Linked DNA regions of Homo sapiens. The protein of the gene in region 1 interacts with the protein of each later gene in a pairwise test. Each region holds a gene or a part of one and is shown on either strand. Other genes may lie near its edges.

Evidence for each region.
Region 2: the proteins of PROCR (region 1) and F2R interact in binary tests that used the Homo sapiens proteins (3 or more experiments, as listed by UniProt).

The regions. Positions count from the first base shown.
Region 1 is NC_000020.11:35,159,522-35,175,709, forward strand, and holds the start of PROCR (endothelial protein C receptor precursor), read left to right. Parts: upstream 1-12,550; 5' UTR 12,551-12,567; coding exon of another isoform or gene 12,568-12,633; coding exon 12,634-12,703; intron 12,704-15,180; coding exon 15,181-15,432; intron 15,433-16,188. UniProt on the Homo sapiens protein: Binds activated protein C. Enhances protein C activation by the thrombin-thrombomodulin complex; plays a role in the protein C pathway controlling blood coagulation.
Region 2 is NC_000005.10:76,723,192-76,738,471, forward strand, and holds the end of F2R (proteinase-activated receptor 1 isoform 1 precursor), read left to right. Parts: intron 1-5,520; exon of another isoform or gene 5,521-5,642; intron 5,643-9,122; coding exon 9,123-10,312; 3' UTR 10,313-12,579; downstream 12,580-15,280. UniProt on the Homo sapiens protein: High affinity receptor that binds the activated thrombin, leading to calcium release from intracellular stores.

The DNA.
Region 1 (16,188 bases):
GGAAAGGCTTGATCTACAAGATATAAATACATTATGAAATAATACTAATCGAGGGCCAGGCACTGTGGCTCACGCCTGTAATCCCAGCACTTTGGAAGGCCAAGGCAGGTGGATCACCTGAGGTCAGGAGTTCGCGAGCAGCCTGACCAATATGGAGAAACCCCGTCTCTACTAAAAACACAAAATTAGCCGGGTGTCATGGCGTGTGCCTGTAATCCCAGCTACTCGGGAGGCTGAGGCAGGAGAATCTCTTGAACCCGGGAGGCAGAGGTTGCGGTGAGCTAAGATCCTGCCATTGCACTCCAGCCTGGGCAACAAGAGTGAAACACCGTCTCAAAAAAAAAAAAAAAAAAAGAGAAAAAAAAATTTAAAAAAAAAAGAAATAATACTAATTGAGATAATGAGCATTGGTACCAGGTGAGACAACTGGACCACTGAAACAGAATAGACATATTTACTGTAAGTCAGAGATGCCACTGCAGATCAGTAAGGAAAGGCCAACTTTTGATAACTGGTTCTGTCTGGGACAGTGGATATCCATTAAAAGAAACTAATCTTGACCTCCACTTCATACCATACCTCAAGGTGAAAGACAAAACTAAAAAGCTTTGAACATAAACAGAATATCTTCATGACCTTGGGGTTTAGGGAAGGGTTGCTTAAATAAGGCACAAAAAGTACAAACTGTAAAGGAATAGGTTGATAAACATAACCACCTTAAAATTAGGAACTTTTGTTTATCTAAAGACATGATAAAGAAAGTGCAAAGCGGCTGGGCGCGGTGGCTCATGCCTGCAATCCCAGCACTTTGGGAGGCTAAGGTGGGAGGATCACTTGAGCCCAGAAGTTTGAGACCAGCCTGGGCAGCATAGCAAGACCTCATCTCTACAAAAATAAGGTTTTTTAAAAAAAAAAAAACTGTGACGGTTAAACCACCTACTCAAGACTCAGCAATGGTGGATGCCCTACGACACCTAGGTGGCGTAGCCTACTATACCCCTAGGCTCCTTGGTATAGCCTATTGCTCCTAGGCTACAAACCTGTAGAACATGTTATGATCCTGAATACTTTAGGCAACTGTAACACAACGGAAATATTTGTGCATCTTAAGAAATCTAGGATTTGCTGGCAAGATGGCCAAATAGGAAGAGCTCTGGTCTGCAGCTCCCAGTGAGATCGATGCAGAAGGTGGGTGATTTCTGCATTTCCAACTGAGGTACCCGGTTTATCTAATTGGGACTGGATGGGCAATGGGTGCAGCCCACGGAGGGCAAGCCGAAGCAGGGTGGGGCGTCGCATCACCCAGGAAGTGCAAGAGGTTAGGGGATATCCCCCCTAGCCAAGGGAAGCGGTGAGGGACTGTGCCCTGGGAAATGGTGCACTACGGCCCAGATACTGCGCTTTTCCCAAGGTCTTCGCCACCTGTAGACCAGGAGATTCCCTCTGGTGCCTACGCCACCAGGGCCCTGGGTTTCAAGCACAAAACTGGGCGGCCATTTGGGCAGACACCGAGCTAGCTGCAGGAGTTTTCTTTTTTTTTTTTCATACCCCAGTGGTGCGTGGAACGCCAGCAAGATAGAATCGTTCACTCTGCAGGCTGGGCGCGGTGGCTCATGCCTGTAATCCCAGCACTTTAGGAGGCCAAGGTGGGCAGATCACGAGGTCAGAAGTTCGAGACCACCCTGGCCAACATGGTGAAACCCCGTCTCTACTCAAAATACAAAAATTAGCTGGGTATAGCAGTGGGGGCCTGTAATCCCAGCTACTCAGGAGGCTGGGGCAGGAGAATCACTTGAACCCAGGAGGTGGAGCTTGCAGTGAGCTGAGATTGCACCACTGCACTCCAGCCTGGACGACAGGGCGAGACTCCGTCTCAAAAAAAAAACAAAAAAAAAAAAACAGGTTTGTTCAATCCGCTGGAAAGGGGGCTGAAGCCAGGGAGCCAAGTGGTCTGGCTCCATGGGTCCCACCCCCACAGAGCTCAGCAAGCTAAGATCCACTGGCTTGAAATTCTCGCTGCCAGCACAGCAGTCTGAGGTCGACCTGGGATGCTTGAGCTTGGTGGTGGGAGGGGTTGTCCGCCATTGCTGAGGCTTGAGTAGGTGGTTTTACCCTCACAGTGTAAACAAAGCTGCAGGGAAGTTCAAACTGGGTGGAGCCCACCACAGCTCAGCAAGGCTGCTGTGGCCAGACTGCCTCTCTAGATTCCTCTTCTCTGGGCAGGGCATCTCTGAAAAAAAGGCAGCAGCCCCAGTCAGGGACTTACAGATAAAACCCCTGGCCAGCACGGTGGCTCACGCCTGTAATCCCAGCACTTTGGGAGGCCGAGACGAGTGGATCATTTGAGGTCAGGAGTTTGAGACTAGCCTGACTAACATGGTGAAACACCATCTCTACTAAAATACAAAAAAAATGAGCCAGGCGTGGTGGCAGGGGCCTGTAATCCCAGCTACTCGGGAGGCTGAGGCAGGAGAATTGCTTGTACCCAGGAGGTGGAGGTTGCAGTGAGCCGAGATTGTGCCACTGCACTCTAGCCTGGGTGATAGAGTGAGACTCTATCTCAAAAAAAAAAAAAAATCTCCCTGGGACAGAGCACCTGGGGGAAGGGGTGGCTTGGAAACAGCTTCAGCAGACTTAAACGTCCCTGCCTGATGGCTCCGAAGAGAACTCCCAGGACAACATTCGAGCTCTGATAAGGGTCAGACTGCCTCCTCAAGTGGGTCCCTGACCCCTATGTATCCTGACTGGGAGACACCTCCCATAGGGGCCAACAGACACCTCATACAGAAGAGCTCTCGCTGGCATCTGGTGGGTGCCTCTCTGGGACAAAGCTTCTAGAGGAAGGAACAGGCAGCAATCTTTGCTGTTCTGCGGCCTCCAGTGGTGATACCCAGGCAAACAGGGTCTGGAGTGGACCTCCAGCAAACTCCAGAAGACCTGCAGCAGAGGGGCCTGACTGTTAGAAGGAAAACTAACAAATACAAAGGAATAGCATCAACATCAACAAAAAGGACGTCCACTCAGAGACCCCATCTGAAGGTCACCAACATCAGAGACCAAAGGTAGATAAATCCATGAAGATGGGGAGAAACCAGCACAAAAAGGCTGAAAATTCCAAAAACCAGAATGCCTCTTCTCCTCCAAAGGATCACAATTCCTTGCCAGCAAGGGAACAAAACTGGAAACAGAGAATGAGTTTGAAGAATTGACAGAAGTAGACTTCAGAAGGTGGGTAATAACAAACTCCTCCGAGCTAAAGGAGCATGTTCTAACCCAATGCAAGGAAGCTAAGAACCTTGAAAAAAGGTTAGATGAATTGCTGACTAGAATAACCGTTTAGAGAAGAACATAAATGACCTGATGGAGCTGAAAAACACAGCACGAGAACTTCGTGAAGCATACACAAGTATCAATAGCCGAATTATCAAGCAGAAGAAAGGATAACAGAGATTGAAGATCAGCTTAATGAAATAAAGCGAGAAGACAAGATTAGAGAAAAAAGAATGAAAAGAAACAAAGCCTCCAAGAAATATGGGACTATGTGAAAAGACCAAATCTACATTTGGTTGGTGTACCTGAAAGTGACAGGGAGAATGGAACCAAGTTGGAAAACACTCTTCAGGATATTATCTAGGAGAACTTCCCCAACCTAGCAAGACAGGCCAACAATCAAATTCAGGAAATACAGAGAACACCACAAAATCAATGTGCAAAAATCACAAGCATTCCTATACACCAATAACAGACAGAGCCAAATCATGAGTGAACTCCCATTCACAATTGCTACAAAGAGAATAAAATACCTAGGAATACAACTTACAATGGATATGAAGACCTCTTCAAGGAGAACTACAAACCACTGCTCAAGGAAATAAGAGGTCACAAATAAATGGAAAAACAATCCATGCTTATGTATAGGAAGAATCAATATCGTGAAAATGGCCATACTGCCCAAAGTAATTTATAGATTCAATGCTATTCCCATCAAGCTACCATTGACTTCCTTCACAGAACTGGAAAAAACTACTTTAAATTTAATATGGAACAAAAAAGAGCCCCCGTATCCAAGACAATCCTAAGCAAAAAGAACAAAGCTGGAGGCATCACGCTACCTGACTTCAAACTATAGTACAAGGCTACAGTATACAAAACAGCATGATATACCAAAACAGATATATAGACCAATGGAACAGAACAAAGCCCTCAGAAGTAACACCACACATCTACAACCATCTGATCTTTGACAAATCTGACAAAAACAAGCAATGGGGAAAGGATTCCCTGTTTAATAAATGGTGTTGGAAAAACTAGCTAGCTATATGCAGAAAACTGAAACTGGACCCCTTCCTTACACCTTATACAAAAATTAACTCCAGATGGATTAAAGACTTAAACATAAGACCTAAAACCATAAAAACCCTAGAAGAAAACCTAGGCAATACCATTCAGGACATAGGCATGGGCAAAGATTTCATGACTAAAACACCAAAAGCAATGGCAACAAAAGCCAAAATTGGCAAATGGGACCTAATTAAACTAAAGAGCTTCTGCACAGCAAAAGAAACTATCATCAGAGTGAACAGGCAACCTACAGAATGGGAGAAAATTTTTGCAATCTATCCACCTGACAAAGGGCTAATATCCAGAATCTACAAAGAACTTAAACAAATTTACAAGAAAAAAAACAACTCCATCAAAAAGTGAGCAAAGGATATGAACAGACACTTCTCAAAAGAAGACATTTATGTGGCCAAAAAACATATGAAAAACAGCTCATCATCACTGGTCATTAGAGAAATGCAAATCGAAACCACAATGAGATACTATCTCATGCCAGTTAGAATGATGATCATTAAAAAGTCAGGAAACAACAGATGCTGGAGAGGATGTGGAGAAATAGGAATGCTTTTACACTGTTGGTGGGAGAGTAAATTAGTTCAAACATTGTGGAAGACAGTGTGGTGATTCCTCAAGGATCTAGAACCAGAAATACCATTTGACCCAGCAATCCCATTACTGGGTATAAGGATTATAAATCATTCTACTATAAAGAATACATGCAGAGGTATGTTTACTGTGGCACTATTCACAACAGCAAAGACTTAGAACCAACCCAAATGCCCATCAGTGATAGACTGGATAAAGAAAATGTGGCACATATATACCATGGAATACTATGCAGCCATAAAAAAGGATGAGTTCATGTCCTTTGCAGGGACATGGATGAGGCTGAAAACCATCATTCTCAGCAAACTAACACAAAAACAGAAAACCAAACACTGCATGTTATCACTCATAAGTGGGAGGTGAACAATGAGAACACATGGACACAGGGAGGGGAATATCACATACCAGGGCCTGTCAGGGGGTAGGGGGCTAGGGGAGGGATAGCATTAGGAGAAATACCTAATGTAGATGACGGGTTGATGGGTACAGCAAACCACCATGACAAGTGTATACCTGCGTAACAAACCTGCACATTCTGCACATGTACCCCAAACTTAAAGTATAATAAAAATTAAAAAAAGAAATCTAAACACAGAAAAGGTACAGTAAAAATATGGTATAGTCGATTTTAAAAGGTACACCTGTAGAGTGTGTACTTCATGCATGGAGCTTGAAGGACTTGGTGTTGCTCTGAGTGGGTCAGTGAGTGAGTGGTGAGCAAATGTGATGGCCTACGACATTACTGTACACTACTGTAGAATTTATCAATACTGTTCACTTAGGCTGCACTAAGTTTATGCAAAAATATTTTTCTTTCTTCAGTAATAAATTAACCTTAGCTTACTGTAAAAAAAAAAAAAGTGAAAAGTTAATATTTATGTGTTCTGTGTTCAGGAAACCAGGAGGAATGGATTTGGCTGAAACTGGAATACATGGATAGATAAGGCTAGAGAGATAGGCAGGAGCCAAGCCAACAATACTAGGCTCCCATCAATTGCTGGGGCAGGCAAGAGCAGGCATCATCCTGAGTGTTTGGAGCTTCTTTTCATGTTCCCTAAGTTGGGGGGTGTTGGGGGGATGATACAGGGGGAAATTCTGATTAAGACTTAACATCTATTCCTTTGCCTTCTCTTCAAGAAGTCATACTTGATGTCCATCCCTCCTGGACAGGGTCCGTTCTGTTTGCTGCTAAGCTCCTTTCTTATCTCTCCCACCTACTGAACACGTACTGTGTTCTGGGAGTTTTGAATGCATCATCTTGTTTATCCTCATGAGATGGTCTAATAATGAAGAAAGCATGTTTTGGCATCCAACTCACCTGGGTATGAGTCCCAGCTCTGCCTTTTACTAGCTGGATGTCTTTGAGCAGCTCAGTTCCCTGTTCTGTGCTTCTGTGTCCTCATCTGTAAAATGGGAACGACGGCTATTTCTTCAGACTGCCCTCCCTCCCTCCTTTTCTGTCTCCCTCCCTCCCTCCCTTCCTCCCTCCCTCTTTCCCCCTTCTTCTTTTCTTTTCTTTCTCTCTTTCTTTCTTTTCTTCTTTCCTTCTTTCTTTTTTCTTTCTCCTTCTTTCCTTCCTTCCCTCCTCTCTCTCTCTCTTTATTTCTGTCTGCCTGTCTTTCAACAGGGTCTTGCTATATTACCCAGGCTGGTCTCAAACTCCTGGACTCAAGCAATCCTCCCAGCTTGGCCCCCCAAAGTGCTAGGATTACAGGCCTGAGCACCTGGCCTGGACTTTCTTCAGACTTTTCACAGGGTACTAGTGAGAAAAAAATACATGGACTCTGCTTACTTAATACTGTGCCTGGCACATTGTAAGCTCTTCGCACATGTTATTGTTATTATTCCTCATCCTAAGGGGGAAGTGCCTTTGAAGGGTCCACACTCCTTTGTTACCCAAATTGGGCCAGGTTGCTTAAACTGCCGTTCTTCAGTAGCTAACAACAGGGGTGGGAGAGCCTGGTCCTCTGAAGTCCAGCTGGGCACACGGCCAGTCCCTGGCCTGTCCCTGCTCCTGCTGCCCTGGCAAGGCCTCCCTCACCCACTGGGGCTGCACCAGCACTGGCCCCAGCTCAGCTTCCTGTCTCCCTTATCTTCCTCCAGCATGTGCTCTCTGGAGTAGGAAACACCACCGCTTGCTTCCTTCATTTCCCTTTGCTCAACGGGACCCTCATTCTTTAGGTCTCAGTCAAATCCCAGCTGCTGGCCTGGTGCCCACTCTGTGATTTTCTACACCTCAGCCACCCAGGCCAGATGCAGTGTAGGCCATGGCTCCAACAGCAGCATTTCTCTTTTCTTCCCCACCCCCATCCCTGGGTTTAGAATGAGAAAAGGCTCAAGTTGCCCCCCTCCCAACTTCCCTACCCGCAACACTCTTTTTATTTTCTCTGTTCCCAGCTCCATACTTCCATGCTTTTTTTTTTTTTTTTTTTTTTTTTTGAGATGGAGTCTTGTTCTGTTGCCCAGGCTGGAGTGCAGTGGCAGGATCTCGGCTTACTGCAACCTCCACCTCCCGGGTTCAAGTAAGTCTCCCACCTCAACCTCCTGAGTAGCTGGGATTACAGGCACGCCACCATGCCCAGCTAATTTTTGTATTTTTAGTAGAGACGGGGTTTTACCATGTTGCCCAGGCTGGTCTCAAACTCCTGACCTCAGGTGATCCATCCACCTTGGCCTCCCAGAGTGCTGGGATTACAGGCATGCCCAGTCCCATACTTTCTGAGTTCAAATCCTCGCTCTGCACTTCCAAGCTGTGTGACCTTGGGCAAGTTACTTAACTATTTTTCTGGGCTTTGATTTTTTTTTTTTTTTTTTGTACAGAGGAGCAGAGGAGGATTCATCAGGTTGCCCAGGTTGGTCCAAACTCCTGGGCTCAAGGGATCCTTCTGCCTGGGCCTCCCAAAATGCTGGGATTACAGGCATGAGCCACCATGCCCAGTTTTTTTGGTTGTTGTTTGTTTTGTTTTGTTTTGTTTGAGACAGGGTCTCTTTCTGTCACCCAGGCTGGGGTGCAGAGGCACAGACATAGCTCACTGCAGCCTTGACCTTTTGACATCCTGGGCTCAAGCCATACTCCTGCCTCAGCCTCCCAAGTAGATGGGACCACAGGTGTGTACTACCATGCCTGGCTAATTTAAAAAAAATTTTTTTGTAGAGATGGAGTCTCATATGTTGCCATGCTGGTCACTAATTTACAGGCATGAGCCACTACACCCAGGCAGCTTTATTTTATTTATTTTTTTGTCTGTAGCATGGAAACAATGAGCATGGTCTGCCCCAGAGAAAGTGATTAAAGGCCTAGCACATAGTATGAATTTAAAGAATGTTTTATAACATATATATTAAACATTCAAGCATGTTGGAGGTATGTGTTAAAAAAATGTATTGATGGAAAGTGATCAAAATAATTTTTGAGTCACTGTGTGGGAGTTAAATTCACAAACTTTGGCACCAGAGAGAGAGAGAAACTTTCAAATTATAGCTTTTGCTGTGTGACCTTAGGTAAGTCACTTAACCTCTCTGAGCCTCAGTTTCTTAGTAAAATGGTGATGCTAGTGAAACCCATTTCACAGGGCTAGCATAAGAATAAAGTAAGATTATTTAAGTAAAGAGCCGAACACTGTTTCTGGCCTACAATAAGTGTTACCTATAATAATGCTATCATTGTCTCACTGTTCAATTTTCAGGGCTCTAGTATATGAGAGGGGTGCTTGGGAAATAGCTGTTGCTGCTGCTATCTGTCCATGATGGATCTTAACCTGATTAGAAAGGCCTCCATGTGGCTGGGCGTGGGGGCTCGTGCCTGTAATCCCAGCACTTTGGGAGGCCAAGGCAGATGGATCACTTGAGGTCAGGAATTCGAGACCAGCCTGGCCAACATGATGAAACCCTATCTCTACTAAAAATGCAAAAATTAGCCAGGCATGGTGGCACCTGCCTGTAATCCCAGCTACTTGGGAGGCTGAGGCAGGAGAATTGCTTGAATCCAGGAGGTGGAGGTTGCAGTGAGCAGAGATCATACCATTGCACTCCAGTCTGGGCAACAGAGCGAGACTCCATCTCAAAAAAAAAAAAAAAAAAAGAAAGAAAGAAAAGGAAAGAAAGCCCTTGATGTAATGAGCTCTGTGTAAGATAATGTGGATGAAAGTGGACCCAGACCCTACCCGCTTAGATGGAAGGCTCACAGCATTCAATTCCAAATTGGTTCAATCGTACACTCTTTTGCCCTCTCTTATCCATCCCAAAGTACCCTTCAAGCCTTCAAGGGAGAAAAAAGGCAAAGCAAAAATATGCACAACCTCACTAAGAACCAGAAAAATGCAAACTAAAACCAAAGAGAAATGCCATTTTACACCCAACCATCTGATAATGCCAAGGGCTGGCAAGGATGTGAAGCGAGGGAATTCTCATACACTGCTGGGAACGTAAATTGGCACAACCTTTCTGTAAAACAGTTTGGCAATATCTAGTAAAACTGAAGATGCATATACTTTATTACTCAGAAATTCCACTGTCAAGTTTGCACCTACAAAAACTCCCACATATGCACAAGGACTCGAGTATGAGAATGTTCATACCAGCACTGTTTGTAATAGCAAAAAACTGGAAAAAACTTAAGTGTTCAGCAACAAGAGAATGGATACATAAATAATGATCTATTCCCAAAATTGATTTTTTTTTTTGAGACAGGGTCTTGCTCTGTTGCCCAGGCTAGAGTGCAGTGGCATGATCATGGCTCACTGCAGTCTCAACCTCCTGGGCTCAAGCAATCCTCCTACCTCAGCCTCCTGAGTAGCTGAGACCACAGGCACAACCCATCACACCCAGCTAATTTTATTTTTTTTGTAGAGATGGGGGTCTCACTATGTTGCCCAGGCTGGTCTTGAACTCCTGGGCTCAAATGATCCACCCACCTCGGCCTCCCAAAGTGCTGGGATAATACCTCCCCAGCCGGAATATTTTAAAGCAGTGAAAATGAATGGTCTACACATAGCCACATGAATGAATCTTATTAATACATTAAGTGAAAAAAGCAAAAGGTACAGAGGAATACATACATTTTAATACCATTTATATAAAGCTCAAAATATGTGAAATACCACTATCTATTGTTTAGGGATATATACATAAGTAGTGTAAGTATACAGAAATATAAGGAAATGAAAAATATCAAATCTTCATTTTCATCTGAAGTGGTTACTTCAGGGGCTGTGGCAGGGAGAGAGAGATGCAGCTGAGGAAGAGTCCATAGGGGGCTTCAACTATATTAGCAATATTGTATTTCTTATGCTTGGTGGTGGGGATAGGTATGTTTGAAATGTAATCCTTTAAGCATGAAATAACTCTTCAAAAATGAAATATTTCAGGCTGTGCACAGTGGCTCAGGCTTGTAATCCCAGCATGTTGGGAGGCTGAAGTGGGCGGATCACCTGAGGTCAGGAGTTTGAGACCAACCTGGCCAACATGGTGAAATCCCATCTCTACTAAAAATACAAAAATTAGCCAGGTGTGGTGGCAGGTGACTGTAATCCCAGCTACTTGGGAGGCTGAGGCAGGAGAATCGCTTGAATCTGGGAGGTGGAGGTTGCAGTGAGCCGAGATCACGCCACTGCATTACAGCAAGACTCCATCTCAAAAAAAAGAAAAAAAAAAAGAAAAAAGAAATGTTTCATAATTTTTAATAAAAGGCAAGACAATATAAATTGGTAGTTATTTAAGTCATTCTACTTTTCCTGAGGCCCAGTGCAGGAAAACAAAGTTCCTATCCTTGTTCCAACTAGACCATTTTGATAAGCTGCAAAAAGAAAAGACTTTGATGCTATTTCTTAGCCAGTTTGCAACAGCTGAGAGGTGAGCATGGAAGCTCTTGCATATATTCAGTTCAGAGAATGGGTGCTTAGTTTATGTCCAGAGTTTGTCCCAGATTTCACTATGACGTCAGCTCTCCGGGGAGAAGTATATAAAATAAAAAGTTAAAATCCCTCTCAGTCCTTTACCCAATCCTATTCCCCAGAGGTAATCTCTATTGACAGTACCCCTCCAGATATTTTCCCTATGTATATACAAATACACAGATACACACTGAAAGTTAATTTTGGCCAGGTGCAGTGGCTCCTGCCTATACCAGAGGATTGCTTGAGTGCAGGAGTTCAAGACCAGCCTGGGCAACATAGCGAGACCACATCTCTAGTAAAAATAAAAAAAAATAGCTAGGCGTGGTGGCACAGTGGCACGTACCTTTAGTCTCAGCTACTCGGGTGGTTGAGGTGGGAGAATCACTTGAGCCCGGGAGGTCAAGCCTACAATTAGCTGTGATTGCTTCACTGCACTATAGCCTGGGCAACAGAGCTAGACCCTGTCTCAAAAAAATAATAATAAATTTTATATATATATATGAGGATGAAATTACATATGTATTATTTGAACAGAAGTGAAATCTTTTCTTTTTTTTTTTCAGACAGAATCTTGCCGCATGACCCAGGCTAGAATGCAGTGGTGTGATCTCGGCCCTCTGCAACCTCCACCTCCCAGGTTCAAGCGATTCTCATGCCTCGGTCTCCCAAGTAGCTGGGATTACAGGCATGCACCACCATGCCCAGCTAATTTTTGTATTTTTCGTAGAGACGTTCGCCATATTGGCCAGGCTGGTCTCAAACTCCTGGCCTCAAGTGATCTGCCCACCTCGGCCTCCCAAAGTGCCAGCAGCATGCTCGGAGGAGTGACTTTAAAGCTTTTCTACTTGCTTCCTAGAGTAAGGGACGCATTTTACACTGCTATCCAAAACTCATCATAGAAACATACACACACAAAACCAAAGCACACATATACAACTGAGCAAATATTTCATGACATAACACTTTCTCTTACTAAGGGTGACGCGCTGAAATTTTGTATTCTGTCCTATTTCATTTTTTAAAAATGGTAACCATGACCTGCTAAATTGATTTCATTGTCCACTAATAAATTATGACCTCAGTTTCAAAAAGATTGCTTTAGGTAACCAATCATCTTCTGAGATTTATACAGATTGCTCATAATTCTCTCCTATTTTTTAAAAACATGCTGCAGTGAACTGCTTTACACTCATTTTATGACTACTTCTGAGACCAAGATCCCGGATTATGTAATTGTTATTTACTTAAAATTCTGGTAAAATGTAGCCATTATACTGGAAAACTAAATTTTAATCTTGGATCTGTCACCACCATGATATATAAACTTTGGGCAAGTCCCTGCACCTCTCTGGACCTCAATCTCCCCATCAGCAACCTGCTGATCCTACTCCCAGGAGTGTGCTCTAAGTTGAAAGTAGATGCCCCACCCCCTGAGTCAGCGCCGGCAGGACTTCTCACCAAGCCCTTCTCCCCCTTTTCCGCTCCCTGTTCCTGGTTCCTAGGAAGCAGCCCAAGGAGAAGGGAAAAGGCAGGTCTGGGCAGGAGGGAGCAATGAAGGGCGGGGCAGAGGGAGGGCAGGAGGGAGGCCGGCCCCCTAGTAGGAAATGAGACACAGTAGAAATAACACTTTATAAGCCTCTTCCTCCTCCCATCTCCTGGCCTCCTTCCATCCTCCTCTGCCCAGACTCCGCCCCTCCCAGACGGTCCTCACTTCTCTTTTCCCTAGACTGCAGCCAGCGGAGCCCGCAGCCGGCCCGAGCCAGGAACCCAGGTCCGGAGCCTCAACTTCAGGATGTTGACAACATTGCTGCCGATACTGCTGCTGTCTGGCTGGGCCTTTTGTAGCCAAGACGCCTCAGATGGTGAGTCGGGGGCACATCTCCTGCCTCAGGATGGTTCTGGAGAATCTCAGTCTATCTGGGCACATGGCAAGACCACAGGAGAGCTTATCTCACAGCATCTGTGTCTGCAGCTGGCTAGATCTCTCTACAGGGCAGGCAGAGTCTTGGGGACTGGTTCGTGTCCCAAAGCCAAGGTGAGTTAGTACATTTAAGCCCCTGAAAAGGGGGAGATGAAAGAGGCTAGGGGAAACAGGATGACTGGAAACATGAGAAAGAAACCAGCAGAGAGGGTAGGAGAATCAGCCCCAGGGAGAGGGGAGAAAGGGGAACTGAGGGTGATGGTAGATAGGGGTACATCTAGGGGAGACGGGAAGAGGCTCAGAAGAGAAGAGAAATGGAGGGAATGGGAAGACCCTGGGAAAACTGATGGAAGAAGTGGGGGAAGAGTGGGGCAGAGAGAGGTTAGGGGAGGCTAGGGAAAATGGAAGGAGACTGGTCGCAGCTGGTGGAACTGGGGAGAAAGAGATGCTGTGCCTAATAGAACTTATGGGCGATCAGGCTACTGAAGTGGCCCTGTTTAAGCAGAAAAGGGAGTTATTACCCTCCATTATAATTGCACAGGGGCCTCCTTTCCCCTCTCTCACAATCCCCGTAACTTCAGTCTCCCCCTCAGAGAGGCAGCAAATAATAACCAGTATTCAATGAGTGCTCACTATGGTTAATACATGTATTGACCCATTTAACTTGCACAAACCCCTAAAGGTGGGTAATATTATTACTATCTCCATTTTATGAGGAGGAAACTGGGTCACAGAGTAGTTAAGGACCATGTCTAGGGTTATCCATAAATATACTTATTCACATCTGCAGATACAAAGCACAACTTCTCAAATGCAAACACAGACAGGACCCACTCACACACACAGATTTACAACCCCGGACTCATCCAAATGTGCTCTGGGCATCAACTCTGTGCCAGCCTCTTTTCTGGGTGTAGGAAGCAGAGATTACCAAGCATGGTTCCATAGCCTAGAGGAGTCCAGTGTGGCCTGTGTGTGTTTGGAGACAGCCAGGTAGTATCCCGTGAGATACACACTAATATATGGTGGTCTGGGATCACTGAAACAGACACACTGTGTCTCGTGGGGCATCAGAAAAAAATTTCCAAGAAGAGGGCAACTGAGCTGGGTCTTTTTTTCTTTGCTTTTCTTTCTTTTTTCTTTTTTTTTTTTTTTTTTTTTTTTGAGATGGAGTCTTGTGCTGTCACCCAGGCTGGAATGCAGTGGCACAATTTCAGCTAACTGTAACCTCCAACTCCCAGGTTCAGGCGATTCTCCTGCCTCAGCCTCCTGAGTAGCTGGGACTACAGGCATGTACCACCACGCCTGGCTAATATTTGTATTTTTAGTACAGATGGGGTTTCGCCATGTTGGCCAGGCTGGTCTTGAATCCCTGACCTCAAGTGATCCGCCCGCCTCGGCCTCCCAAAGTACTGGGATTACAGGCATGAGCCACCGCGCCCAGTCTCTGAGCTGGGTCTTAAATCATGAATAAACTTCGCCAGGCAGAAAAAGGGAGGCAGAGCAATCCTGACATGCTATTCATGTGTCAGCCAAAGGCAGCATGAGGAATCCCAACTAGTTTGATATATAAGCAGCGGGAAGCGGCCAGAAAAGGCAGCAGGGGCCAGGTCTCTAGCAGCCTTGAATGCCAGGCTAAAGACTCTGGACTTGATCCTGTGGGGAGGCAGTGTAGCAGAATGGCTGAGTGCTGGACTTGACTGCCTACGTGCAAACCTTGGCTCTGCTACACTATCTCTGTCTCAGTTTCCCATGTAGACTGGGGTTAATAATAGTAGCTATTGCATTAAGCCACTGGGGAAAGGCACAAAGATAATAATGTATGTAAAGCCCATTGCCCAGGTTATAATAAGCACTGAATCGACATTGGCTATGATTATTTTTGATTAATGAAGGGGAGGGGGTTATGGCACTGGAAGATTTTAAGTAGGAAAAGGACATGATCTCATCCCTGGGTCAGGTGGAGGTCGGAATAGAGAACGGGGAGATGAAGTAGAAAGTTACTACCCCAGTCTAGATGAGACGGATGAATCCTGAATCAGGGCAGTGGAAGAGGAGATGGAGAACAGGCGATGGAATTGGAATTTTATTCAGGTCAGGATTTGTTAACCATTTGTTCCGTTGGTTAACAGGAAACGGGGGGAGGGAGAGCCGAGGGTGAAAAAGGAGGCAGAAAGGAGTGTCTCTTCCACTGCAGGCCTCAGTTTCCTCATCTGTAAAACGGAGATAATAATCCCTGTCCTGTCCTCCTGGCAGAGTTACTGTCAGCGTCAAACGGGAGAAGCGGTGGGAGGGCACATTATAGTTTATGAAGGGTCGAGAAGGCGGGCGGCCAGCCTCGAGGTAGGGGGTTATTATCTTCCGCTGCCCGCCGCCCCCTCCCACGCCGGCCCAGGCTGAAGCTGACTCTGCCCGCAGGCCTCCAAAGACTTCATATGCTCCAGATCTCCTACTTCCGCGACCCCTATCACGTGTGGTACCAGGGCAACGCGTCGCTGGGGGGACACCTAACGCACGTGCTGGAAGGCCCAGACACCAACACCACGATCATTCAGCTGCAGCCCTTGCAGGAGCCCGAGAGCTGGGCGCGCACGCAGAGTGGCCTGCAGTCCTACCTGCTCCAGTTCCACGGCCTCGTGCGCCTGGTGCACCAGGAGCGGACCTTGGCCTGTGAGTAGGCGCGCAGCGGGGGCGGGGTCTGGGCGGGGCTAGTGGGGGCGGGGCCTGGCGGGTGGGGGCGGGGCCTGGCGGATGGAGGCGGGCTGGGACTTGCAGGGACCCGGCAGCCACTGGAGCTCGGTGGCGCCTGGGCCTTTGAAGATTGCTGGGTGGGGGCTGGAGAGAGGCAGTTGTCCCCGCTAAGAAAGCCCCGACTCGGGCGGTCGTCCTGCTGGCATAACCTCTTGGGATAGACCCTGTTGGAAGGCCCTGACACCGTGACGTCGAAGGTCCCCAGAAAACTCCTCACCCCTCGCCTCACAGTCCTCCAACTCCTTTTCTTCATAGATCTCCGTCCTTCCCTTCCCACAGCCCCCAGCACTTCACCCCCCACCCTCCAGCCACTTCTCATACAAGCTGATGACTTCGCTCTTAGCTCCACTCATGACCCGAACTCTTCCCCCAAAGACCCCAAGTTCTTCTCTCAAAGCCCCACTCCTTCCCCGTCACAACCCTAACTCCTTCTTCTCAAAGACCCCAATTTCTTTTCTCAAAGCACCAAGCACCACTCCGTCCCCCTTCCCCCACCATCATGGCCTTTAACTCCTTTCTCTCCTAGTCCCCCACCCCACCCCCCTTTTTTTTTTTTTTTTTTTTTTTTGAGACGGAGTCTTGCTCTGTCGTCCAGGCTGGAGTGCAGTGGCGCGATCTCGGCTCACTGCAACTTCCGCCTCCCGGGTTCAAGCGATTCTCCTGCCTCAGCCTCCC
Region 2 (15,280 bases), on another chromosome or scaffold:
TCACGTTAAGCTAGCCATTCACATGTCCACATACTGCCTACTGTAGCTAAAAGGATGGGCAGATTCATTTGTTTGGTGACATGCAAAGAGAAAAAGATGGTACTCTTTTAGAAGTAGGTCATGAATCACAAGTTTTTAAGGAGAGAATAGCGTGGAGTGGTCAAAAGGTATGACCTTTGGAGCTGGGCAGACCTAGGTTCAAACCCTGGCTCCTCTACTTCATAGCTGTGTGACTTTGGATTAGTTACTTAGCCTCTCTGTGCCTCCATGTTGTCATTTATAAAATGGTAGTTATAATGCTCATGTCATAGAAATGTTAGAATTATATGAACTAAGGCAAGTGAAGTATCTGGCACATAGTAGGTGCTCAAAAAGATGGTAAGGTTTTTTCATACACCAATGCTTCCATATTCCAGAAAAGCTTTTGAAGAGTTGATACCAAATAAATTATCTAAATATAAGACAATCTTCACACAAGCATGCAAGAACATTTTCCCCTTCAGAACTAGGACAAAAGAAAAAAGCAAAAACCCTTGCCCTTAACTTCTAGTGGCAAATAAACATGCATACAGTATTTGTTTGTTTTTTTAACTTTTATTATGGGATTTTTCAAACATACCCAAAAATGAACAGTATAGTTACTCCCCATACCCATCATCCAGCTTCAACATTATTTACATGTCACCAATCTTGTTTTATCTAAACCCTCAAGTTTCCTCCTCTCCCAACTGTATAATTTTAAAGCAAATCCCAGATATCATATTATGTCATTCATAAAAACATCAGTAAGCATCCTTAGAGATTAGAACTCTTTTTTCCACATAACCACAATACAATTATAATACCTAAAAAATGAACATTTCCTTCTGTTTTTTTGTTTGTTTGTTTGTTTTGAGACACATTCTTACTCTGTTGCTAAGGCTGGAGTTCAGTAGCACAATCATGGCTCATCCACAGTCTCAACCTCCTGGGCTCAAGCAATCCTCCTGCCTCAGACTCCAAAGTAGCTGGGACTACAGGCACACACCACCACGACCAGCTAATTTTTGTATTTATTTTAATAGACATAGGATTTTGCTGCATTGCCCAGGCTGGTCTGGAACTCCTGGGTTCAATCAGTCCTCCTGCCTCGGCTTCCCGAAGTGCTGGCATTACAGGCGTGAGCCACCGTGCCCGGCCTAACAATTCCTTAATATCATCTGATAATCAGTCAGTGTTCATATTTACCTTATTGTCTCATAAATACCTTTTAACAGTTGGTTTGTTTGAATCAGGTTCAAACAAGGTCCACCATTACATTTTAATCTGTAACTGCCCCCCCACCCCTTTTTTATTGCTATTTATTTGTCAAAGAAACTAAGCCATCTGTCTTAGTTCTTATTTGTCAAAGAAACTAAGCCATCTGTCTTTTCTACATACTGGATCTGGCTGACTGCGTCTTCAACTCATGGATCTTAACATGTATGAAATGTTTCAATTCATTTCCATCATTATTCTTTTGATGGTCAAATTGGTGATCAACATGTCACATCTTTGGTCAGTGGGAGCCCTTTGAGATTGACTCCAGCGTCTTTTTGACCTAACCCTGATATTCTTTGAAGATGTTCAATGTTCATCTTGTGTATTTCCTACCCCAGATCTGGAACTAGTCATTTCTTTAAGAAGCCCCAGTTCTTTTCATTGGAAAATGGTGTTTGTTTGAATCTGAGGGAGTAAAACATTCCAGTAATGCTGGTGTTTTCCACTTGACAGAGTTAGTGTGATTCTGTTATTTTCCTGTCCTCCTCTTCATTTCTCTTTAGCCTGTAGTGTTGTTTCAACTCTTGTGCTCTGTGTGGGAATGTGAGCAAAGTCCTGGGACTTCTGCTTTGTTAACTCTGAAAAAGCATGAGCCCCGAAGGGCAGAACTGTGAGTCAAAACCATGTGTGTCATGGAATGCTGGTGTGGTATAAATCCCAGGATCAAATGCGACATTCAGAGATCCTCTAGTCACCCCTCTGCTTCCAGGACAGATCTCATCACAGTCAGAAAACGTGTTGCCTAACTCACTAATTTTTAAAAATCGCCACAGTTAAAGAGTCCGTATTTAAACTATTTAATAATTTGCTGTATTCGATAACAAAACTACTCTAGAGCAATTTAGAAGAGCCTAAATTAAGTGAAACTTAGCAAATCGTATGAGAACTGAATTCAGGACCTCTGCTGCCTTTTTTGTGAAACCATAGCTTAACCAAAAAAAAAAACAGAGATGAATGATAAGAGATTTGGGCACCTTCACAAGCACTTTCTCCTTGACCTGAGTTGTGCTAGGACTGGAGGAAAAGCGAGATACTTAAACTCAAATTTCAGCCTAAGGGTCTTGAGCTAGTTGGAATTGTCTAGTCACCTTGCATTGGTTTTGTCCTTTCTTTGATGCTGGTATATACTACATTTTTTCTTTTCTTTTTTTTTCCGACATTCTTTAATTTCACAAAAACCAGAATATCAAACCCATAGTATCAAGAAAAGGTAACACCTTAGGCAGCGATATTTAACCAAGGGATTATACATTCTTCCTGAGCTCTAGCCTATAAAAATTTCATGTTTCCACAAGTATAATGTTCCTGTCGGAAGTACCGTCTGCCTGAGGCCTACCCAGAGAAGATGTTTTTTAAAACAAGTACTTACTGCCTAAGTACTAAATACAGAGTAAAGTCTAGTGACAGTTTTATTTTCAGACTAAGTGATAGTATCTGAAGAGCTTAGTTGTATTTATTAGTTTTCACATTGTGTCAGTCTCTCAGGTGTCATCTTGATTCATGTATGTAAGTATGCATGTTCATGTCCACTTTTTCCCCTCTGTGCATCACAAAAGCCCATAATCTGGCCAGGCTTCCAAAACTGCAGAGGAGAATTGCATTATTTTAAGGTTCCTTGGCCAGGTGCAGTGGCTTATGCCTGTAATCCCAGCACTTTGGGAGGCTGAGGTGGGTGGATCACTTGAGGCCAGGAGCATGAGACTAGCTGGCAAGCATGGTGAAACCCCATCTCTACTAAAAATACAAAAATTAGCTGGGCAGCCGGGCGCGGTGGCTCACACCTGTAATCCTAGCACTTTGGGAGGCCGAGGTGGGTGGATCACGAGGTCAGAAGATAGAGACCATCCTGGCTAACACGGTGAAACCCCATTTCTTCTAAAAATACAAAAAATTAGCCGGGCGCGGTGGCAGGCACCTGTAGTCCCAGCTACTAGGGAGGCTGAGGCAAGAGAATGGCGTGAACCCGGGAGGTGGAGTTAGCAGTGAGCCGAGATAGAGATAGCGCCACTGCAGTCCGGCCTGGGCGAAAGAGCGAGACTCTGTCTCAAAAAAAAAAAAAAATTAGCTGGGCATGGCGGTGCGTGCTTGTAATCCCAGCTACTTGGGAGGCTGAGGCAGGAGGATTGCTTGAACTGGGGAGGCAGAGGTTGCAGTGAGCCAAAATCGCACCACTGCTCTCCAGCTTGGGTGACAGAGCAAGACTCCATCTCAAAAAAAAATTGGTTCCTCTAGATCAGCATTTTTGCATATGCATGTTTTTGTGATATTAAAGTGCCAGAACCACAAACAAAAAAAATTAAAAATAAAAAAAAATGTTTAAGTGCCAGAAGCCATTCATTCTTTTCTTTCAGCACCCACACACTCATTGTGATCTTGAGAACAGCCTCACATCCACAGGGTCTGTTGGTACCAAGGTCAGGCTTCTGTGTGACTGGGGCAAGGTGAACACAGAGTAAGTTACATGCATTGCAAAGGTAAGAGAGTGATACTTCCAGAAAAGATTGTGAATTCAAAATTTGATTTATAGCTCTGAACCCTAGAGCTATATAATATACAACTTGTTCATTCCCTCATTGTACTAAAAAACTATAAACATTGCTAAGTAGGAGGGAAGATGAACCTAGATTTCCTTTTAACTTAATTAAGTGAGCAAACAATTGGGTATAAAAGCACACTACATGGAAGTGGGAGAGGAAGGATAATAGTAATTTCTTAAACTGCTTAATCGTTATGGTTTCCAAAGTGAATGTATGTCCTGTTTCACACGGGATGCTCCAGTTGCCAGATTTGTAGGCCAGACAGGAATTAGAATTCCATTTTAATGATTCTGAGCTTAATTCAGAGAAGTTAAGTGATCCCTGAACAGAGTCAATATTAGAATACAAATATGTGCCTACCACATGCAGGGCACAGGGTACTGGAGGTTCAGAGATTAACAGGAACAGTTCTTACCCTTAAGGATCAATGTAGACACAAGTGTGTATTCACATTCATCACTGGAGACATTCATTCCTTCCCTGTGACAGATCTCCTGCCAGGCCACCCCTTCATTGTCTGGAGACCCTCTCCCAACTTTGCTTAGGTAGCTTGACCTCAACCCTACACTACCAGGCTCTGCTCTGCTGTCTCTGAGTTGGTACTACTCTAGCTTTGCTCTTCATTTTGGAAATAGATGCCAACATATTGTATTTTATTTTCTATTTCTAGAATTTCCACTTGGTAGTTCTTTGCTGATATTTCCTATTTTCAGTTCATTTCTATAAAATATTTTTCTTTTTTTTTTTTTTTGCACATGGTTGTAATACATTCTTCAAAATCCTTATCTGCTAATTCCAACATCTGGGTCAACTTGAGGTTGGTTTCCGCTCACTGTCTTTTTACTTAAGACTGGGTCACTTTTTTTTTTTTTTTTTTAGAGACAGAGTCTCACTCTGTTGCCCAGGCTGGAGTACAATGGTGTGATGATACCTCACTGTAGCCTCGATCTCCCAGGCTCAACTTGTCCTCCCACCTGGGCTTCCCAAAGTGTTGAGATTACAGGTGTGAGCCACCACACCTGGCAGCCCCCTTTTTCTTTTATTTGACAAAAAATTATATATATTTATAGTGTATAACATAATGTTTTGAAATATGCATAACTTGTGAGATGGCTAAATCAAACTTATAACATGTATTACCTCAAATACTTATCATTTTTTGTGGTGAGACCACTTAAAGTCTACTCTCTTAGCAATTGTCAAGTATACAACACATTGTTATTAACTATAGTCACCGTATTATACAAGAGATTTTTCTAACTAATTCCTTTTAACAGAAATTTTGTACCCTTTGACCAATGTCTCCCCAGTCTACCCTACCCACCCATCCAACCCCAGCCTCTACTAACCACCATTCTCTTCTCTGCTTCCATGAGTTCAACTGTTTTCGATTCCACATATAAGTGAAATCATGCTATATTTGTCTTTCGGTGCCTGCCATATTTCACTTAACATTATGCCCTCTCGGCTCATCCATGTTGTTGCAAATGACAGAATTTCCTTCTTTTTTAAGGCTGAATAGTATTCCACTGTGTATATACATCATATTTTTTATTCATTCATTCATTCATCAGTGGATACCTAGTTTGATTCCATAACTGGGCTATTATAAATAATTCTGCAATGAACATGAGATTGCAGCTATTGACATCCTGGTCTTTTTTTTTTTTTTTTTTTTTTTGAGATGGGGTCTCGCTCTGTCGGCCAGGCTGGAGTGCAATGGCGCAATCTCAGCTCACTGCAACCTCCGCCTCCTGCGTTCAAGCAATTCTCCTGCCTCAGCCTCCCGAGGAGCTGGGATTATAGGTATGCGCTACCAAGCCTGGCTAATTTTTGTAATTTTAGTAGAGACAGGGTTTTGCCATGTTGGCCAGGCTGGTCTCAAACTCCTGACCTCAGGTGATCCACCCACCTTGGCCTCCCAAAGTGCTGGGATTACAGGCGTGAGCCACCGTGCCCAGCCAGCATCCTAATTTTATTTCCTTTGGATGTATGCCCAGCAGTGGAATTGCTGTATTATATAATAGTTCTATTTTTAGTTTTAGAGGAACCTTCATACTGTTTTTCGTAATGGCTATGCCAATTTAAATTCCCACCATCAGTATAGATGGGCTTCCTTTCCCCGTATCCTCACCAACACTTGTTATCTGTCATCTTTTTGATAATATCCATTCTAACAGGTATGAAGTGATAACTCATTGTGGTTTTAATGTTCATTTCCCTGATTAGTGATGTTGAGCATTTTTTCATATACTTGTTGGCCATTTGTATGTCTTCTTTTGAAAAATGTCTATTCAGATCCTTTGTCCATTTTTAAATCAGGTGATTTGTTATCTTGCTGTTGAGTTATAGGAGTTCCTTATATATTTTGGATATTAACCCTTTATCAGACGTATGGTTTGCAAATATTTGCTTTCATTTCATAAATTTTCTCTTCACTGTTGATTGTTTCCTTTGCTGTGCAGAAGCTTTTTACTTTGATACAGTCCCAGTTGTCTACTTCTCCTTTTATTGCCTGTGCTTTTATGGTCATTATAAAAAATTACTGCCCAGACAATGTCATGAAGCTTTTCCTCTATGTTTTCTGCTAGTAGTTTTACAGTTTCAGGTCTTATGTGTAAACCATTAATCCATTTAAGTTGGTTGTTGTATATAGTGTGAGAGAAGGGGGACAAGACGTCCAGAGTTTATCACTTTTGTGTATATTGGTTGGATCTGGTGATAACGATTTGGCTCTATGTCCCCACCCAAATCTCAACTTGTAGCTCCCATAATTCCCATGTGTTGTAGGAGGGACCCAGTAGGAGATGATTGAATCATGGAGACGGGTCTTTCCTGTGTTGTTGTCATGATAGTAAAATGGGTCTCTCAAGATCAGATGGTTTTAAAAACAGGAGTTTCCCTGCACAAGCTCTCTCTTTGCCCGCTGCCATCCAAGTAAGATGTGACTTGCTCCTCCTTACCTTCTGCTATGATTATGAGGCCTCCCCAGCCATGTGGAACTGTAAGTCCAATAAACCATTTTCTTGTATAAATTACAGGAAAAAAGACTCTGGATTTTGTTATATTCCTTCAAAGAGTGTTGGTGTTTTTGCTTTAGCAGCCAATTAATTTGGTTTTACTCAAGCAGCAGACTCTTTCTCTCTTGAGCAGAAGCTTAAATATCACTTCAGTTCTTTTATCTTTAGCAGAGGTGCTTCTCATCTTTCCTACAAATGCATAGTTCAAGGGTCAGCCAAACCCTAGGACAGAAGTTATACTGAAATTTAGGGCTCCCCCTCTCTGACTTTTTCCTTTCCAGGATTCTCTCCTAACTTTCCAGTGACTGTGATTGCCCTGAACTCTGTCCTCTGGTTCTGTAGGCCAAAAAGACTACGGATTTTCTATCTGGGTTTTAGTCACCTTTTATGTTATATAGGCACTGCTGTTATATAGGAAAAACCAAACTATTTTCCCCAAACTGTTTTCTCTTACCCAGCACTTCACTCAATCCTTCTGACACCGTATGTCTGGAGCTTGTTTCTCCACATACCAAGCAACCAATTCTCCTGCAGATTCTCCAGTGGACACCAGCTGGGTATCCTTGAATATAATTCAATTCTGGACACTATCTACCTCTAATATAACTCAATTCTGACACTATCTATCTACCTGGAGATAGAGTCAGATTCCACAGATTAAGGGCTCAGTTTCACAACGCTGCCTTCCACTTCAAATGGCAGTCATAAGTCTGGGCCTCCAGACTTCTGACCACACTATACATTGGGAGTTCCTAAGGCCCCCTGCTCAGATTCGATTAATTTGCTAGCATGATTCACAGAACTCAGGGAACCACTTTACTTACTTTTATCCATTCGTTATAAAGAAAATTACAGAGGATACAGATGAACAGCCACATGGTAGAGATGCATAGGGCAGCGATTGTGGGAAGGAGCACAGAGTTTCCATGCCCTCTCTTGGGCACTACCTTCCAGGAACCTCCATGTGTTCACCTATTTTTGGTTGATACTCCAAAAACCTTGGTTGGTCTGGCATGAGTGGCCAAGAACATCGGCTGCTCTGCTGACCTGCTCAGGAAAGAAGTAGAAGAATGACTGAGATGATGGGTACCTTGTGACTATGTTAGGAGATAACCCCAGGGATTGTGGTTTGGACCCAGATATAGTGAGAGATTTCTACATTCTCCTGTGTAAGCAAACTAAAGACTGTAGAGGAAAACTACTGTCATGGACATTGGCCGTAGAATTGGGAGTCCTGAATCCCATTATTAATTTGCCTCTAACTCCAAAACCTTTAAGAAATCCCCTCTGGTGGCACGTGCCTGTAATCCCAGCTACTCACGAGGCTGAGGCAGGAGAATTCCTTGAACCCCGGAGGCGGAGGTTGCGGTGAGCCGAGATCGCGCCACTGTGCTCCAGCCTGGGCAACAGAGTGAGACTGTGTCTCAGAAAAAAAAAGAAAGAAAAAGAAATCCCCTCTACTTTTTTTTTTTTTTTAATTTCTATTTATTTTTATTTTTTGAGACGGAGTCTCACTCTGTCGCCCAGGTTGGAGTGCAGTGGTGTGATCTTGGCTCACTGCAACCTCTGCTGCCCAGGTTCAAGCGATTCTTCTGCCTCAGGCTCCCAAGTAGCTGGGATTACAGGTGCATGCCACCGCACCTGGCTAATTTTTGTGTTTTTAGTAGAGATGGGGTTTCACCATCTTGGCCAGGCTAGTCTTGAACTCCTGACCTTGTGATCCACCCACCTCGGACTCCCAAAGTGCTGGGATTACAGACGTGACCCACTGTGCCCAGCCTAAATCCCCTCAACTTTCTATGTGGATTTTTCCATTGAAAAGGGACAGGTTTCATGGGATGACTGCAGACTAAATGGAGAAAGTGTGCACATGAAGGTATGCGGAGGAAAGAGAAGTCATGGAAGCTGGGAGTGATTTGTTTATATAGACAGTGGCTAGCGTGGAAATCAATGATTGATCCCTTTATGTCAAGTACTCAGCCTTTCCTAATGTCTTCAGGGTAGATCTCTGAAAACCTATCATTCACCTTTGTCCCTTTGAGGGGCAGAGTTTAGGAAGTATTGCTTATATCAAGACAAATGTTTCACAGTATTTTGAGTTGGCTTATTCTCTAATAAAGTCTATTTGTGCATTATCTGCTCTTTACCACCCACTCTCCTAGTAAGAAAACATAAACAAAAGTAAAATATGCTCTCTGCTTGTCGCTTTTGCCTTGTTGATGCGTTCACTTTTTACATTTAAAATTTTTTTAATTTTATTTTTCAGAATCAAAAGCAACAAATGCCACCTTAGATCCCCGGTCATTTCTTCTCAGGAACCCCAATGATAAATATGAACCATTTTGGGAGGATGAGGAGAAAAATGAAAGTGGGTTAACTGAATACAGATTAGTCTCCATCAATAAAAGCAGTCCTCTTCAAAAACAACTTCCTGCATTCATCTCAGAAGATGCCTCCGGATATTTGACCAGCTCCTGGCTGACACTCTTTGTCCCATCTGTGTACACCGGAGTGTTTGTAGTCAGCCTCCCACTAAACATCATGGCCATCGTTGTGTTCATCCTGAAAATGAAGGTCAAGAAGCCGGCGGTGGTGTACATGCTGCACCTGGCCACGGCAGATGTGCTGTTTGTGTCTGTGCTCCCCTTTAAGATCAGCTATTACTTTTCCGGCAGTGATTGGCAGTTTGGGTCTGAATTGTGTCGCTTCGTCACTGCAGCATTTTACTGTAACATGTACGCCTCTATCTTGCTCATGACAGTCATAAGCATTGACCGGTTTCTGGCTGTGGTGTATCCCATGCAGTCCCTCTCCTGGCGTACTCTGGGAAGGGCTTCCTTCACTTGTCTGGCCATCTGGGCTTTGGCCATCGCAGGGGTAGTGCCTCTGCTCCTCAAGGAGCAAACCATCCAGGTGCCCGGGCTCAACATCACTACCTGTCATGATGTGCTCAATGAAACCCTGCTCGAAGGCTACTATGCCTACTACTTCTCAGCCTTCTCTGCTGTCTTCTTTTTTGTGCCGCTGATCATTTCCACGGTCTGTTATGTGTCTATCATTCGATGTCTTAGCTCTTCCGCAGTTGCCAACCGCAGCAAGAAGTCCCGGGCTTTGTTCCTGTCAGCTGCTGTTTTCTGCATCTTCATCATTTGCTTCGGACCCACAAACGTCCTCCTGATTGCGCATTACTCATTCCTTTCTCACACTTCCACCACAGAGGCTGCCTACTTTGCCTACCTCCTCTGTGTCTGTGTCAGCAGCATAAGCTGCTGCATCGACCCCCTAATTTACTATTACGCTTCCTCTGAGTGCCAGAGGTACGTCTACAGTATCTTATGCTGCAAAGAAAGTTCCGATCCCAGCAGTTATAACAGCAGTGGGCAGTTGATGGCAAGTAAAATGGATACCTGCTCTAGTAACCTGAATAACAGCATATACAAAAAGCTGTTAACTTAGGAAAAGGGACTGCTGGGAGGTTAAAAAGAAAAGTTTATAAAAGTGAATAACCTGAGGATTCTATTAGTCCCCACCCAAACTTTATTGATTCACCTCCTAAAACAACAGATGTACGACTTGCATACCTGCTTTTTATGGGAGCTGTCAAGCATGTATTTTTGTCAATTACCAGAAAGATAACAGGACGAGATGACGGTGTTATTCCAAGGGAATATTGCCAATGCTACAGTAATAAATGAATGTCACTTCTGGATATAGCTAGGTGACATATACATACTTACATGTGTGTATATGTAGATGTATGCACACACATATATTATTTGCAGTGCAGTATAGAATAGGCACTTTAAAACACTCTTTCCCCGCACCCCAGCAATTATGAAAATAATCTCTGATTCCCTGATTTAATATGCAAAGTCTAGGTTGGTAGAGTTTAGCCCTGAACATTTCATGGTGTTCATCAACAGTGAGAGACTCCATAGTTTGGGCTTGTACCACTTTTGCAAATAAGTGTATTTTGAAATTGTTTGACGGCAAGGTTTAAGTTATTAAGAGGTAAGACTTAGTACTATCTGTGCGTAGAAGTTCTAGTGTTTTCAATTTTAAACATATCCAAGTTTGAATTCCTAAAATTATGGAAACAGATGAAAAGCCTCTGTTTTGATATGGGTAGTATTTTTTACATTTTACACACTGTACACATAAGCCAAAACTGAGCATAAGTCCTCTAGTGAATGTAGGCTGGCTTTCAGAGTAGGCTATTCCTGAGAGCTGCATGTGTCCGCCCCCGATGGAGGACTCCAGGCAGCAGACACATGCCAGGGCCATGTCAGACACAGATTGGCCAGAAACCTTCCTGCTGAGCCTCACAGCAGTGAGACTGGGGCCACTACATTTGCTCCATCCTCCTGGGATTGGCTGTGAACTGATCATGTTTATGAGAAACTGGCAAAGCAGAATGTGATATCCTAGGAGGTAATGACCATGAAAGACTTCTCTACCCATCTTAAAAACAACGAAAGAAGGCATGGACTTCTGGATGCCCATCCACTGGGTGTAAACACATCTAGTAGTTGTTCTGAAATGTCAGTTCTGATATGGAAGCACCCATTATGCGCTGTGGCCACTCCAATAGGTGCTGAGTGTACAGAGTGGAATAAGACAGAGACCTGCCCTCAAGAGCAAAGTAGATCATGCATAGAGTGTGATGTATGTGTAATAAATATGTTTCACACAAACAAGGCCTGTCAGCTAAAGAAGTTTGAACATTTGGGTTACTATTTCTTGTGGTTATAACTTAATGAAAACAATGCAGTACAGGACATATATTTTTTAAAATAAGTCTGATTTAATTGGGCACTATTTATTTACAAATGTTTTGCTCAATAGATTGCTCAAATCAGGTTTTCTTTTAAGAATCAATCATGTCAGTCTGCTTAGAAATAACAGAAGAAAATAGAATTGACATTGAAATCTAGGAAAATTATTCTATAATTTCCATTTACTTAAGACTTAATGAGACTTTAAAAGCATTTTTTAACCTCCTAAGTATCAAGTATAGAAAATCTTCATGGAATTCACAAAGTAATTTGGAAATTAGGTTGAAACATATCTCTTATCTTACGAAAAAATGGTAGCATTTTAAACAAAATAGAAAGTTGCAAGGCAAATGTTTATTTAAAAGAGCAGGCCAGGCGCGGTGGCTCACGCCTGTAATCCCAGCACTTTGGGAGGCTGAGGCGGGTGGATCACGAGGTCAGGAGATCGAGACCATCCTGGCTAACACGGTGAAACCCGTCTCTACTAAAAATGCAAAAAAAATTAGCCGGGCGTGGTGGCAGGCACCTGTAGTCCCAGCTACTCGGGAGGCTGAGGCAGGAGACTGGCGTGAACCCAGGAGGCGGACCTTGTAGTGAGCCGAGATCGCGCCACTGTGCTCCAGCCTGGGCAACAGAGCAAGACTCCATCTCAAAAAATAAAAATAAATAAAAAATAAAAAAATAAAAGAGCAAACTATTTCCAAATACCATAGAATAACTTACATAAAAGTAATATAACTGTATTGTAAGTAGAAGCTAGCACTGGTTTTATTAATTTAGTGACTATTCATTTTATCTAAATCAGTGAAGATTTACTGTCATTGTTTATTAGTCTGTATATATTAAAATATGATATCATTAATGTACTTACAAAATAGTATGTCACTGTTTTTATGTTCATTCTTAAAAACATAACCTGTATTAATAAATGTGAACATTTGCTTGGTATCTCTTTGGAACAAATTAGTATTATATCTTTCTGGTCCTGGCACACTTTAAGGGTTTAACTGAAGAGCATTTAATGAAGAGGTGATTTACAAAGGTGTAGACAGGGTTAAGGGAACCAACGGGGACTGGTGAAGCACCCCCCAGAGACTAGCAATCAGGGGAAGCCATTACTGCCAAGGCCCAGGTACAGGAGGGAACACACTGACGCCTCTCCCTCACCCTCTGATCTCTTGGGAGGCCTCCCCTTGATCCTAATCTTAACCCAATACCCAGAGTGAAGTAGTCCATAAAGATCAGCTTCCTTTGCCGTGGAGAAGGGATCTGGAAGAACAAATGCAAGGAAAAAATAAAACAAACAGCACCATTTCTGCCAAAGACATTGAGTGATTAGCTCTCTCTCTCTCTCTCAATCCCTTCTTAAGAAAATTTAAGCTTATTGAGAATATATTCAAATTTCTGAGTTATAGACATCATGGGTAGTGTCTGCAGTTCTTCCCTAGTGAGAGAGAAATTAAATGTCAGAGCAGAAAGGAAATCCGTAAAATGGCTGTGCTGTCTTCTCTGGCTGAATGACAGTCCTTTGCTGTCTAGCACTCCCTCAGGCAGAAGGGAGGAGGGGAAATTTAAAGCAAAATGACTAGTACTTCTCAAGGTTGAAAATAAAAAAATTTTTGATAAATTATTTCTAGAGTCATAGTCAATGAAAAAATTATTTCAACTAAACAAGGATTTTGTTAACATACAGAATTTTTATAAGTTAACACACAAGCTTTTTAAGTTTCTAAGGCCTGGACTTTTCACGTGTGTTTCAAGGAATAGATTGAGTTCAAAAAACCTTAAATTTTGCTAACACAAAAATTTTTTTTGTCCAGGCATGGTGGCTCACGCCTATAATGCCAACACTTTGGGAGACTGAGGCCAGAGGATCATTTCAGACCAGGAGGTTGAGACCAGCCTGAGCAACATAGTGAGACGCCATCTCAATTAAAAAATAAATAAATAATTAACCTGGCACGATGGCATGCCTGTGGTCCCAGCTACTCAGGAGGCTGAGGTGGGAGGATCGTCTGAGCCCAAGAGGTTGAGGCTGCAGCGAGCCATGATTGCACCACTGCAGTCCAGCCTGGGCAACAGAGTGAGACCATGTATCCAAAAAAAAAAAATGTTTTTTCCACCAAGCTAAAAATAGCATTTTTAAGGAAATGGAATGCTTGGCTATTGAATATACACTTGGAAAATTTTAGGTTATACTTCTGAATTTAAGAAATTTTAAAAACTGTTTGCCGTTGGCATGTCTTTGAGGAAGTTGAGCTACAGAAGCAAGTGGAAAAGGTTAAGCAGCATTGATGACCAAGCTATTTAAGTTTCTGGGGCCTGGACCATCCATTAGCAGCTTATCTTCAGCCAGGTGCTGTCGTGAAAATTAAGGGGAAAAACAGTTCACCAATGGTAATTTCCTGGCATAATTAGCCTGTTATGTGGCTATGCCTTTTGAAACTACTAGACCAAATGTGTGTGAAGAGTAATTGACCACAGGATAAACCTAATTGTGTTTTGTGAAGGAGGTGTGGTTAAGTGAGCTGCAATGTGAGAAGAGAGGAGAAATTCTCTAATGCAATTATTCTCAGAGTTCCTGAGACTCTCAGGAGATCTGCAAGGTCAAACTCTCTTCAAATACCAAGATATTATTTGCCTTTTTTGGTCTGTTTCTCTCATAAGTGGACAGATGAGTTTTCCAGAAGCTACACAACATGTGAAAGTGCAACAGATTGAATGCAGAAGCAGAGACGAAAATCTGACTGTCTCCTATTACACCAGTCATTAAAGAGATTGCAAAAATGTAAAACAATGCAACTCTCCTCCTTAAATTATTGTTTTGGGAAAAAATTTTGAAAAATATAGTATTTATTTTAACATGTAATGGGCTTATTGTCATTTTTAGCTGAAATAGATATTTTCAAAAGTTCTCCATTTTAATGTCTAATATGGAAAATATCAGTAGATAAAATCATTGGCAGCAGGGTGCAGTAGCTCACACCTGTAATACCAACACTTTGGGAGGCCAAGCCAGGCGGATCACGAGGCCAGGAGTTCGAGACCAGCCTGGGCAACATAGGTAAACCCCATCTCTACTAAAAATAAAAAACTTAGCTGGGTGTGGTGGTGCACATCTGTAATCCCAGCTACTTGGGAGGCTGAGGCACGAGAATCACTTGAGCCTGGGAGGCGAGGGTTACAGTGAGTCAAGATGGCATCACTGCACTCCAGCCTGGACGACAGAGCAGAGCAAGGCTGTCTCAAAAAATGAAAAAGAAAAAAAGTCAGTGATGTGCTGCTAAGCAGGATCTCCACAAAAAGAAAAAAAGCCTGATCTGGCAAACTAGCATTTGCCAATTTTGATGGTGTGAATACTCCCTTCTTTTCCAGTTTCAAGCTCCCAACTGTTTAACAGTTGGCTTGACAAATTTCCTGAATATTGAATTCTTGTGAGCAGGTACAAGTTGACTCCAGCACACCAATGGATGCAACCCACATAAACAAAGGCTCTTTGCTGGTCCTCAATAATTTTAAGTGTATTAAGGTGTTCTGAGCAAAAGAAGTTTGAAAACCACTGCCCTTATCCAAGATGTCCCAACTTTATTGACTTGAAGAAAACAGATAAACTGGTAATTATTATAAAAGCATAAAAGCAAACAGGGGT